4 separate regions of the Homo sapiens genome follow, and all the other regions are linked to region 1. The links come from fine-mapping of genetic effects on gene expression. A gene starts in region 1. Each other region holds a variant in brackets. All regions are shown on one strand. Distances are between the middles of the regions. Region 1 holds the start of CDO1 (cysteine dioxygenase type 1). Region 2 overlaps LOC102467217 (a long non-coding RNA gene). Region 3 has its middle 91 kb from the start of CDO1. Region 4 has its middle 29 kb from the start of CDO1.

What was found. PIP is the estimated chance that this variant, and not a neighbour inherited with it, causes the effect. A credible set is the group of variants that fine-mapping cannot tell apart.
Region 2: its variant is the best candidate, but not a certain one, in a credible set for the expression of CDO1 in sun-exposed skin (GTEx, PIP 0.60).
Region 3: its variant is the best candidate, but not a certain one, in a credible set for the expression of CDO1 in subcutaneous fat (TwinsUK, PIP 0.59).
Region 4: its variant is the best candidate, but not a certain one, in a credible set for the expression of CDO1 in whole blood (INTERVAL, PIP 0.77).

What each region holds. Positions count from the first base shown.
Region 1 is chr5:115,815,321-115,818,012 of GRCh38, forward strand. CDO1 (cysteine dioxygenase type 1) reads right to left here and starts at 1,339. Exons shown (of 5, transcript NM_001801.3): 1 at 908-1,339. The coding sequence starts at 1,077. LOC124901049 (a long non-coding RNA gene) reads left to right here and starts at 1,768. Exons shown (of 2, transcript XR_007058908.1): 1 at 1,768-1,851.
Region 2 is chr5:115,655,850-115,658,541 of GRCh38, forward strand. All of the region lies in intron 3 of LOC102467217 (a long non-coding RNA gene), which reads right to left. Among named protein-coding and RNA genes, the nearest start is that of TMED7-TICAM2, 31 kb to the left of the region's middle. The variant G/A (reference allele first, on the strand shown) is at 1,170.
Region 3 is chr5:115,724,498-115,727,189 of GRCh38, forward strand. No RefSeq gene overlaps it. Among named protein-coding and RNA genes, the nearest start is that of CDO1, 91 kb to the right of the region's middle. The variant C/A (reference allele first, on the strand shown) is at 1,325.
Region 4 is chr5:115,786,060-115,788,751 of GRCh38, forward strand. No RefSeq gene overlaps it. Among named protein-coding and RNA genes, the nearest start is that of CDO1, 29 kb to the right of the region's middle. The variant C/A (reference allele first, on the strand shown) is at 1,422.

The DNA.
Region 1 (2,692 bases):
GTAGAGAGATTCGACTTAATCACCAAGCCGGGGCTGCAAAAAAGCCAGCTTACCAGGGCACCTCACTCAAGTACATCTGGGAAGTAGGGGTCTTTAATTTACATTACAGATCGTCAGAAGCAAGGATAAGATAAATCAGATCATTTGGGGGCTGAAAAAAACGACGGTCGAATATTTAATCTGCGAAACTTGGCAGTGGATTTGAATAAACCCACAGTCGGGGAAGTTAGTTAAATTGGTTTGGGAAAGGGAACAGCAGAAATTCCGTAGTGGCAGCTGACGGCCACAAGACGCTATTTTACATGAGTAAAAATGCTTGCTATAAGGTGCCCGGTTGCAGGCGACCGAAGGCGCAGTGATGGAGAACTGACGCGGGTGACTTGTCTTCTTCAACATCACACACTTCTCCCGATGGCTGATGTAGTGCTCCCCTGGGAGCACCCTCTGCTAGTCCGGCCAGACGGTTCCTTAAGGTGTCAGGAGGGCCCGAACCTGAGTGCGGTCTCTCCGCATCTCCGCGCCCGGGGTTAACGATGGCTTGGGAGTGTGGGCATTGCTCCCGAGGCCAGGGGCAGGAGGACTGGTGGTTTAGAAGCAGAGGGGTTTGCGGGAGAGAAGAGAACAGAAAATCTCGCAGACGCGCGGTGGCCTCCCTTCCCGGCGCCTGTCCGCCGTTCCCGGCCGGAGGTCAGCAAGGCCAGTAGGATCCACCTTCCGCCTGCGCTGTGGCCGCGGAGCCCCAAGCGAGTCGTGCCAGCCCCGCGGCTGGCCAGCGAGGGGGCGAGCGGCGGACGCAGCGCGGCCCGAGCTTCCCGAGCCAGTCACTTTGGGCTGCGTCCCCCACGTCCATTCCTCCTCAGACGGGGCGAGTGGGCGCCGCCTGGCATTGAAGCTGCAGCGCGCTCACCTGTACTGGTCGAACTTGGCGTACATTGCCCACTCGGTGGGGTCGCTCTCGTAGGCTTCCATGATGGCCTGCACCTCCTCTACATTGACCTCATCGCCGGCAAAGAGCTGGTGCAGGATGCGGATCAGATCAGCCAGGGTCCGTGGCTTCAGCACTTCGGTCTGTTCCATCTCGTGGGGAGCTGGCTGCGCGCGCGTCTCACTGCTGGGCTGCGGTGGAGGAGCTGAGCGAGCCAAGGAGCTGGGGGCGAGGGAGCCTAACAGCCCGCTAGACCGCTAAGCAGACACACACGCACAAACCCAGCATTAGAGTGCCGAAACGTAAGGATGTCGTCGCAGAGACAGCAAGAGACCCACCCCCAGGCCCCTGGCAGCGCAGTGGATCCGGGATCGCTGGAGACGCGGTGCACACACAAATCAGGTTCAGATCTGTGGGGTTCATCCTCCCGGGCCCCTTTTAAGCGCTTGGAGTCACTAGGAATGTACCAACGGCCCTCGGAGGGAGGACGAGGCGGAGAGCCACCCAAGAAAGGTGGCGGAGGCGGGGAGACCCTGCGGGCACGGCTCACGCGCACATCCCCGGCTTCCCCGGGCTCCGCGCCTTCCCAAGAGCCCCGTTGTCTCCGGCGTCCCAGGGATCGCGTGGGCTCCGCGCAATCTCTCCCCCACTTTAACGGCGCGTTTTAGCCGCCCGGCCTAACGCCTCTCCCCGCTCCACCTCCGCCGCTGTGGTTCGCGACGCTGGGACGTAGACAAAAAGGGTCGGAGGAGATGGCTGCGGGGACTGACGCTGAGTAAAGGAGGAAAAGAAAAGGGAAGGAGAGGGACACTTCTTCCAAATAGAGAATTGTGAGGAGCCTGCGAAAATTGAGGATGGATTCCACTCCTAGGCCAGAGAGTGCCTGTTTTGTCGATTGAAACTATCCACGATATGCCCCAGGCTAGGTGAAAATAAGTCCAAGACTTTATATATATATATATTTAAGTATACACACACACATATTTTTTAAAATGCGTACTGAAATATATTTTGACAAAGGAGACTCGGGTCTCTAGTAAGACAATTAGTGAAATGATGGAAAACCAAGAACTCTTTGATTTTAAAATCAAATATTTTCTTTTAAAAAATATCCAGTGCAAATAACCTGATATTTCATTTGATGGTGTAAAAGGGGGCTTTTTCTGAGGGGATAGGGCGGGCTCTGACGCAATAATTTAAGAGGCTATAATTATATTTGAATCTTTCAACCTTAGGCATGTGCTTGAAGGAGCCTGCTAGTACATACATATAAGGAAACACGTTTCTACGTCATGCATAGCACCTAGTACGTTGGGAACAACACAAATCAAGTACAGTAGGATTTAAATGAGAAAGATGTGAAAGGTGGAAGAAATGCAAGTGTAGATTTCTTCCTTCTCATTATGGATGGACGCAGGGAATAATTTGGATTTAAGGTTATTAAAGTTCTAGACTTCTGAAGACCTGTTTTTTTCTAGACTATGATCACCCTCCCTCGTGTATATACATGTATACAATGAAATTTACTTGTGCCAGGTAGTCTTAAACATCTCTGGTAAAACTCGCTACATTATATTCTAACAGTGTTGTTAAAAGCGGAATCACCTATTGTTCAAAAATGGCTACAAGTAGAAAGCATTCCAGAAGCCAGCCTTGGTGATGTGTGTTGCTGCGGGGTAGTGAATTAACAAAGTATTTTGTGACAGAGTAACCTGTAAACTTTTCATGGTTTCCTCAAATTATTTTTTATTCTTGGCAATGTTTTCT
Region 2 (2,692 bases), 160 kb before region 1:
CAAAACATTTAATTTAATTGTTGTCATGTTTTAAGAAGTTTCCTTCTGAAATATTTAAAATTATGTATTAGAATTTCAAGCAAAATAGAATGTACAGTGTAGTTAATATCAAAAATGTAGATCAAAAGCACTTAAAGTAAAATTTTTAATTTAGTTTTTTGAAAATGTAATTATCATCAAATATTATTATAAAATCAGAACTATTTGCATTTTAGCATTTACTGTCTATCTAATTGCCAGTATAAACCATCATTAAGAGATGTTACAGTTTAAGCCTAAATACCTGCAACTTTAAGAGACTATGAATTGTTTAATATTGCAAAATATTTCTCAGTTGATCTTTGCTCAGTGCAACTTTGTGAGTTTCCCGTTTCACTGGTACCTCTGGAATTGTGAATTGAAAGATAATGAAAAGGAAGAATATAGATGCTGTTTGACCTTACTGGGAAAGAATACTTCTACATAAAAGAATCTATTTTATTCTTGCTAAGAGGACAGTGTGAAAAGTTAATTAATTTGTCTTTTGTTTTTAAACTGTTACTACTGTTTAAATCTTCCTGCATTCTGAAGCTGTTTGTTTCTCTGATGTCAGCAGCAGTACAAACCACAAACCTTCAAGTTTATGGACACAGTGACTTTTTGTTTTAAGGACATAGGGGAAGAGAGGTGGAGAAGAATTTCCCTATGACCAGAATGATCCTGAAGGGTGACTGATAAGTGAATTGTGTGTGTGTGTTTATGATATGCAGAGCCCTCTACTGTGTGGATCCCAGGGCAGTGGCCCCTCTAGCTCAGGTGTAAGGATGGTCCTGTAAGGGATGACATATGGCAGAGGAGAGGTAATGAACATTTTCACTGTTCATCCTACTTGATTATCAGAGGGTTGAGCACTGTAGACTTTCATCGTCTTGAAACACCTTTTCCTTGTCTTTTGTTATACCACCCTTTCTGACTTTCTTCCCAACTCCTCAGCTACTTTTTCTCAGTCTCCTTTGCAAGACCATCTTCCTCAACCCAATATTAATGCACAACGAGGCTCAGTTTATAGGCCCTCTACACCCACAGCTTTAAATATGGTCTATTTGCCATTGATGACTACTCAGCATCTACATTTGGACATCTTTAAGGAACCACAAATTTTAACATTATTAAGATCCAATTCATATTTT[G/A]CTTGATATTTTATGATTGCCCTTCTAGATCCACTCTTCATTCCTTTCCATCCTTATGTGTGTCCTGAGAGGGTATCCTGTGGGTATATTCTACCTCAACAGACTCTCTTGTTGTATAAATTTCCTTTGCATTTGGATTTGGGTTTGAAGATTCCTGGTAGAAAATCTGAGGGAGGGCAAAAAGTAAGGTAGAGGTATTTGTTCCCTTAGCTACCTCCATCCAGGGTTGCCTAGGCCTGGGAGCAGAACCTCTTGCCCAAATATCTTATCTCCTATCATGTGACTTCCTAAACTAGGTTCCCATAATTGCTCCTTCTCTTTGCCTTTTGGAAATTCTACTATTTACAGTCCCAGAGTATTGCACTATTTCTCATGGTTTGTCCTACTCTGATTGCACTTTTATAAATAGTCCCTTCAAATTACCCAATTTGACTGCACCATCTTTTTCCCACTGGGAACTTAATTGGCACAGTAATTGATACTGTGACTGGTCCCAGAAAACAAAGTAAAATCCTTAAAATCCTGGACTGGATTGTGCAATATTTGAAGAGTACAGGGGGAATGGGGTATGGACAATCCTTGACATATAGTAGTATCACAGTTACTCAAACTGTCACTGGTGATGACACAGGAGGTCAAGGTTTTGGGAAATCAAGTAGCGGTAAAACTTGATTGCTACGAGTTCTACAGATCTTAGGAACTATAGTGTCATCTGGGTTGTTCTAAAGGCCCTAGGGAGAATAAGTAGGGACAAAGAGAAATGAAATTGCCAGATGAGAATTTATGTGGAAAATCAGAGAGCCCTGAATGCAACTTTAAAAGCACATCTTATTTCCAATAACTGCAGGAGGAGGTAGTTGAGAACTAAGCTTAGGATCTGATTATAAGGGTTGCAGCATTAATTAAATGCTCAAGTTCATGAGGCTTATTATATTAAAATATAGACACTTAGGGGGAATGAATGCAACCCTGTCCCCTGAGTCATGGAATGATTCATACTACTGCAAAGAAAGTATGACAATGCGTTCACACCACTGGAATTCACTAGTCTTGCCCATCTCCAAAAAGGAGCTGGATCACCAGAAGAGCAGAATAGCCTGCTGACCTCACAATTTTGGCACCAGCTAAAAGAAAGCACCTTCAAGGTTAGGGGGCTATCCTGCAAGATACGGCAAATGCCTTAAATGAGCAACATCTCTCTATATCTTTCTCTACAGGTAGAATGAATGGGTCTGGAGACCAAGCAAACATGTGACATTTGCAAAAATGTATAGTGTACAAGGCTACAAAACAAGGCTTAATAAATTCCTAAGAATGGATGCTATACAGCTTGTTCTCCGAAAAGAGTGCAGCAAAATTAGAAACCAACGTTAAAAGGAGATTAGAAACCCTCATATGTTTTGAAATTTTAAAAAACACTACAAAAACATTCATGGGTACAATATGGCAAGAGAAAAAATAAAAGGTATAGCGTTTGGAATGGAAGTAATAAAATCGTCATTATTTGCAGATGACATGAATTG
Region 3 (2,692 bases), 91 kb before region 1:
AGAAGTATCCATGACCCAAAATAGATGAAAAACCCAGCTGAAGGTAGCTTGGGATCACAAAGAGAGCTTTAAATATCTTCATTAGCATTGTGAATTTAGTCTTGCAGGCAAATGGGAGCCACTGAAGGGTTTTTTTCTTTGTTTTGGGGAAGGTGTTTGTATTAGTCAGGGTTCTCTAGAGGGACAGAACTAATGGAATAGATATATATACATATAAAGGGGAGTTTATTAACTCACATGATCACAAGGTCCCACAATAGGACATCTGCAGGCTGAGGAGAAAGGAGAGCCAGTCCAAGTTCCCAAACTGAAGAACTCAGAGTCCAGTGTTCGAGGGTAGGAAGCATCCAGCATGGGAGAAAGATGTAGGCTGAGAGGCTAGGCCAGTCTCTCTCTTTTCACACTTTTCTGCCTGCTTTTTATTCTAGCCATGCTGGCAGTTGGTTAGATTGTGCTCACTCAGATTAAGGGTGGGTCTGCCTTTCCCAGCCCACTGACTCAATTATTAACCTCCTTTGGCAACACCCTCACAGACACACCCAGGATCAATACTTTTTTTCCTTCATTCCAATCAAATTGACATTCAGTATTAACCATCACAAGCCCACCCCTTGTCAACTTGAACACATCTCCTGAAATCATATATAATCTTCAAATAAAGACAATAATAAGGTCATAATTATGCCTAACATAATGCAAATATCCTTTGTACAACTGGAAATGCACCTATCTGCTTTAGACAGAGTCACTCTCTGTTGCCCAGGCTGGAGTGCAGTGGCACAATCTCGGATCACTGCAAGCTCTGCTTCCCAGGTTCACGCCATTCTCCTGCCTCAGCCTCCCAGGTAGCTGGGACTACAGGCACCCACCACCACGCCCGGCTAATTTTTTTGTATTTTTATTACAGACCAGGTTTCACCGTGTTAGCCAGGATGGTCTCGATCTCCTGACCTCGTGATCTGCCTGCCTCGGCCTCCCAAAGTGCTGGGATTATAGGCATGAGCCACCGTGCCCGGCCCCAAATACTATTACATTAAATTAACAATACTTAAATGCTGATGTGAAGTCAATAAATCTTATGTTACATGATAAAGGAGAAAGGAAATAAAATGAAGATATTTTCTGAGTACAAGCATATGCATGAAAAAACATGTTTTTAACAAAAGAAGGGGAAAATATTCATCACAATTCCAATCCTCATTTCTGCAGCTGGTCACGTGATCATAGCTGATATTGATGACTACTTTCTACTACCCATTCTGTATCCCCTTTGTCTTCAGCAAGCACCTCAGAAGGTCATGGCTTTTTTTTTCTGGTGGAGTGA[C/A]TCAAATCTTCATTCCTGAAGGATCTGGGTCATTTGTAGTCCTGCCTGGTTTGGGCTGTTGTAGTTTCCCATTGACCTTAATCACAGGGCATGGTAATACTAAGAGACACCCTAATGGACCTCTTGTAGTCCATGCATATTCTTCCTTACCTCCATTATGAAGTAGTAGACTGATTTCATCTTGATAGTCCAGATCAATTGTCCCATCCAACACTGTAACTCCCCTCTTAGCCTGTTGACTTAAAGGTAGGAGGAGCCCGAAGTGTCCAGGTGGCAATCTTAATTTCCAGTTTAATGGAATTGTTGTTGTGTCTCCTGGTGGCAGTGTTCCTCCCTCTGGAACTAAGACCTCTAGGCCAGCAGAATGTAATATCATGGGAACAGGAAGTAAAAATTTTCCTAGTGGATCACTAGAGGTGATGGTGAGTGGTGCCACTTCCACTTCCACCCCTTGATTCCTGGACCCGTGAATCCTGGCTATGGGAGAAACAGTACCATATATTGGATGCGAATTCAAAGTATACACAGCCTTCTGGAGAACTTTGCCCCAGCCCTGCAAAGTACTGTCACCCAGTTGGTATTGTAATTGTGACTTCAAAAGGCCATTCCACCGTTCTATCAATCCAGCTGCTTCAGGGTGATGGGGAACATGGTAAGACCAGTGAATTCCAGGAGCATGAGCCCACTGCTGCACTTCTTTAGCTGTAAAGTAAGTGCCTTGCCAGACGCAATGCTGTGTGGAATACCATGACGGTGGATAAGGCATTCCATGAGTCCATGGATGGTAGTCTTGGCATAAGCATTGAGTGCAGGATAGGCAAACCCATATCCAGAGTGTCTATTCCAGTGAGGACAAACCTCTGCCCTTTCCATGATGGAAAAGGTCCAATATAATCAACCTGCTACCAGGTAGCAGCACGAGGAATGGTGCCATATTGAGGGCTCAGTGTTGGTCTCTGCTGCTGGCAAATTGGGCACTCAGCAGCGGCTGTAGCCAGGTCAGCCTTGGTGAGTGGAAGTCCAAGCTGCTGAGCCCATGCATAACCTCCATCCCTACCACCATGGCCACTTTGTTCATGGGCCCATTGGGCAATGACAGGTGTGGCTGGGGAAAGAGGCTGAGTGATGTCCACAGAATGGGTCACCCTATCCGCTTGATTAAAATCCTCCTCTGCTGAGGTCATCCATTGGTGAGCACTCACATGGGATACAAATATCTTCACAGTTTTTGACCACTCAGAGAGGTCCATCTACATAACTCTTCCCCAAATTTCTTTGTCACCAATTTTCCAATCATGCTTCTTCCAAGTCCCTGTCCATCCAGACAAACCATTGGCTACAGCCCATGAATCAGTATATAATCACACA
Region 4 (2,692 bases), 29 kb before region 1:
AGATGTGGCTCATGCCTGTAATCCCAGCATTTTGGGAGGCAAAAGCAGTAGGAACTCTTGAACTAGGAATTTGAGACCAGCCTGGGCAACAGAAACTGTAATGGCTTTCCCTGGTGTATGTCATCATCAATCTTAAAGCTCAAATGACTATCTGAAGGTACTGCTACCAGAGCATTTTTCGATTCCAAAACTGCAAGCAAATATTTAAGTGCCAGGACAAAATCTACAGCAATAATAAAAAATATAATAGCTGCATTTACTCTACAGATTATCAAAGATCTAATGTCTCACCTTTTGTGGCATAGCCAAGTGTGAATAAAATAATCACGATCAGAAAAAAATTTCTTATTTCTTGTGCAGCATTTTTCCTGTAAAAAAGGATTGTTTATAAGACTATTGTGAGTAAAATCTTCCAGAGGAGACTTCAGGCACATTGGAAAATTTTAGTGGACTTTATTAGTGAACTAGGAATTCATGAGATAAATTGTATAGCTTTTGGTGGGGACCATGTAAATGTATGCATACAGGTACAGAAAATGTGTAGTCAAAGTTGAAGCAAAGCATGAATGATTGTATAGAAGATGTTGACTGTCCTGCCTGTATTCTGCATAATGCTGTTCAAATAGCATATGATGTTCCTTCTACTGATATTGTCACAAAATTGTTATGAAATTCTTCTCTTACTTCAGCATTTATGCAGCATGTCCTCAAATAACATCGTTTTGTTCAACATCATTCCCTTGTAACGTTGATGAAAAAAGTTGTCTAAATTGTCACAGTAGGAGTGTGTGTGAGAGCACCCTGCAGTGAGTTGGCATCCTGGCCAGCGTGGGTTCCCACCTATGCCCTGAGCTGCTGGGATAGGCTCCGGCCACCCTTGACTCTAAACTGGAACAATTGGGTAAATAATTATCTTGTTTGTATTAATCTTTCCCAATAGTATGTATAGCTCACATTTATTTCAATGTTTAGTATTAGAAGTGTTTTGGGTCTTTATGCAGAACTTTGATGATGTTTTTGTGACCAGAAACATGCCATAGAAACTTTACTCTTGTTTACACCAATCAGCCTATGGTGAATTAGTTTCATTATATGCAATTCCACTTAGTCACAGTTTCTAAGAACCTATGGAGGACCTAAAGTGAGGACTTACTATACTTATAAGCAGCGTTTTTCCATTCTATCAGATTCAAAACTTATTGGTCTCTTTAACGAATGTATTTGGGAGAATCCTCATATGAAATCATACTTTAATTCTGAAGGAAAGACCCCCCCCCAAATTCTTGTTGAGTACTTAAAAAGTTTATTAAGTAAAGGCTACTTATTTCTTTTTCATATTTTGCAATTACTTTAGCAAGAGGATTATGCAAATTAAAAGAAGAACATTTTTGAAGTAGTTGTTTAAGGAAATTATTAAATGC[C/A]TTAGAGAATGACTTGAAAAATTTATTCCTTTAATTATCAAAGTTGTTTTAATTTTATTTTGTTTTTATTTATTTACTTTTCTTGAGACATGGCCTTGCTCCGTCACCCAGGCTACAGTGCAGTGGTGCAATCACAGCTCACTGCAACCTCTGCCTCCTGGGAGCTCAAGCCATCTGCCTGCCTCAGCCTCCTAAGTAGCTACAAAACTTGTTTTTAAAAGTGGCAACATTACTTTGAACAAGAAAAGAAATTCCAACTTGGATTAATTCATTATTATGGCACTTATTATAACTATGTTTTGAAATTGATACCATCCCTTGAAGAATTTGATTCTTTTATAGAGATATTATTAAATACACTTTCGACATGGAAACAAGAGGAATCATCATATGTATTGTTGAAGAGGAAGGGAATAAAAATTCATAGCAATGCTCTTTTTTGACATTGGACAACATTTTAAAAGTCATTGATCAAGATGCAATATAATCCTTAAGAATAGAAAAGCAAGTTATGTCACCAAAGATGGTATGTTCTTCAACAAATTAAATTCCAAGAGTACTTACTGGGATTTTAATTTTAGGCCAGTACATGCCTAGAATACCAGCTCGTAATGAGCATGTTTTGTCATTGGTAAATGTTAAATGCACAAAAGAATAAAACTAGTTGGATGGGACCACTGTAGATGACGTGTTAAAATGGAAATGGAGTATAGATTATAACCACAAGGAGTTTTATAAGTAAATTCTGGAAAACAAAGAGCTGTTAAGGAGAGCCATTAGGGTGATAAAATTTTAAAAATGGATATGTAATTTTGATGGTTATTATTTATTTCAGATAAACAAGAAATACTTTTTATAGTAAAGTATGTCTTATGTAATATTTTTCATTTCTCTAAATGTATATATATAGGCAACTAGAAGTAAAACTTAACTGGGCATTCTGTTTTATTATTTGCTAACCTGCAACTGTATATTTAGCTCAAATTTAAGTTTTAGTAGAGATTGATTTTTATGTGTTTTATATATATAGCCATATATATACAGTTTATAATAAATTGGGGCACTTTATATATAATTTTGCCTGTTGTATAAGACTTAGTAATATTGCTTGCCTTTTATTGGTTATACAGGCTTAGCTATTTTAATCTTTGTTCTTACGCAATATCATTAGCAATATTATTCTTTTTTTCAGAATAGCATAGTTTTTAGCAGCTTTATTGAGAGAGAAACATACCATATAACCCACTTACTTGAAGTGTACAACTCAATGG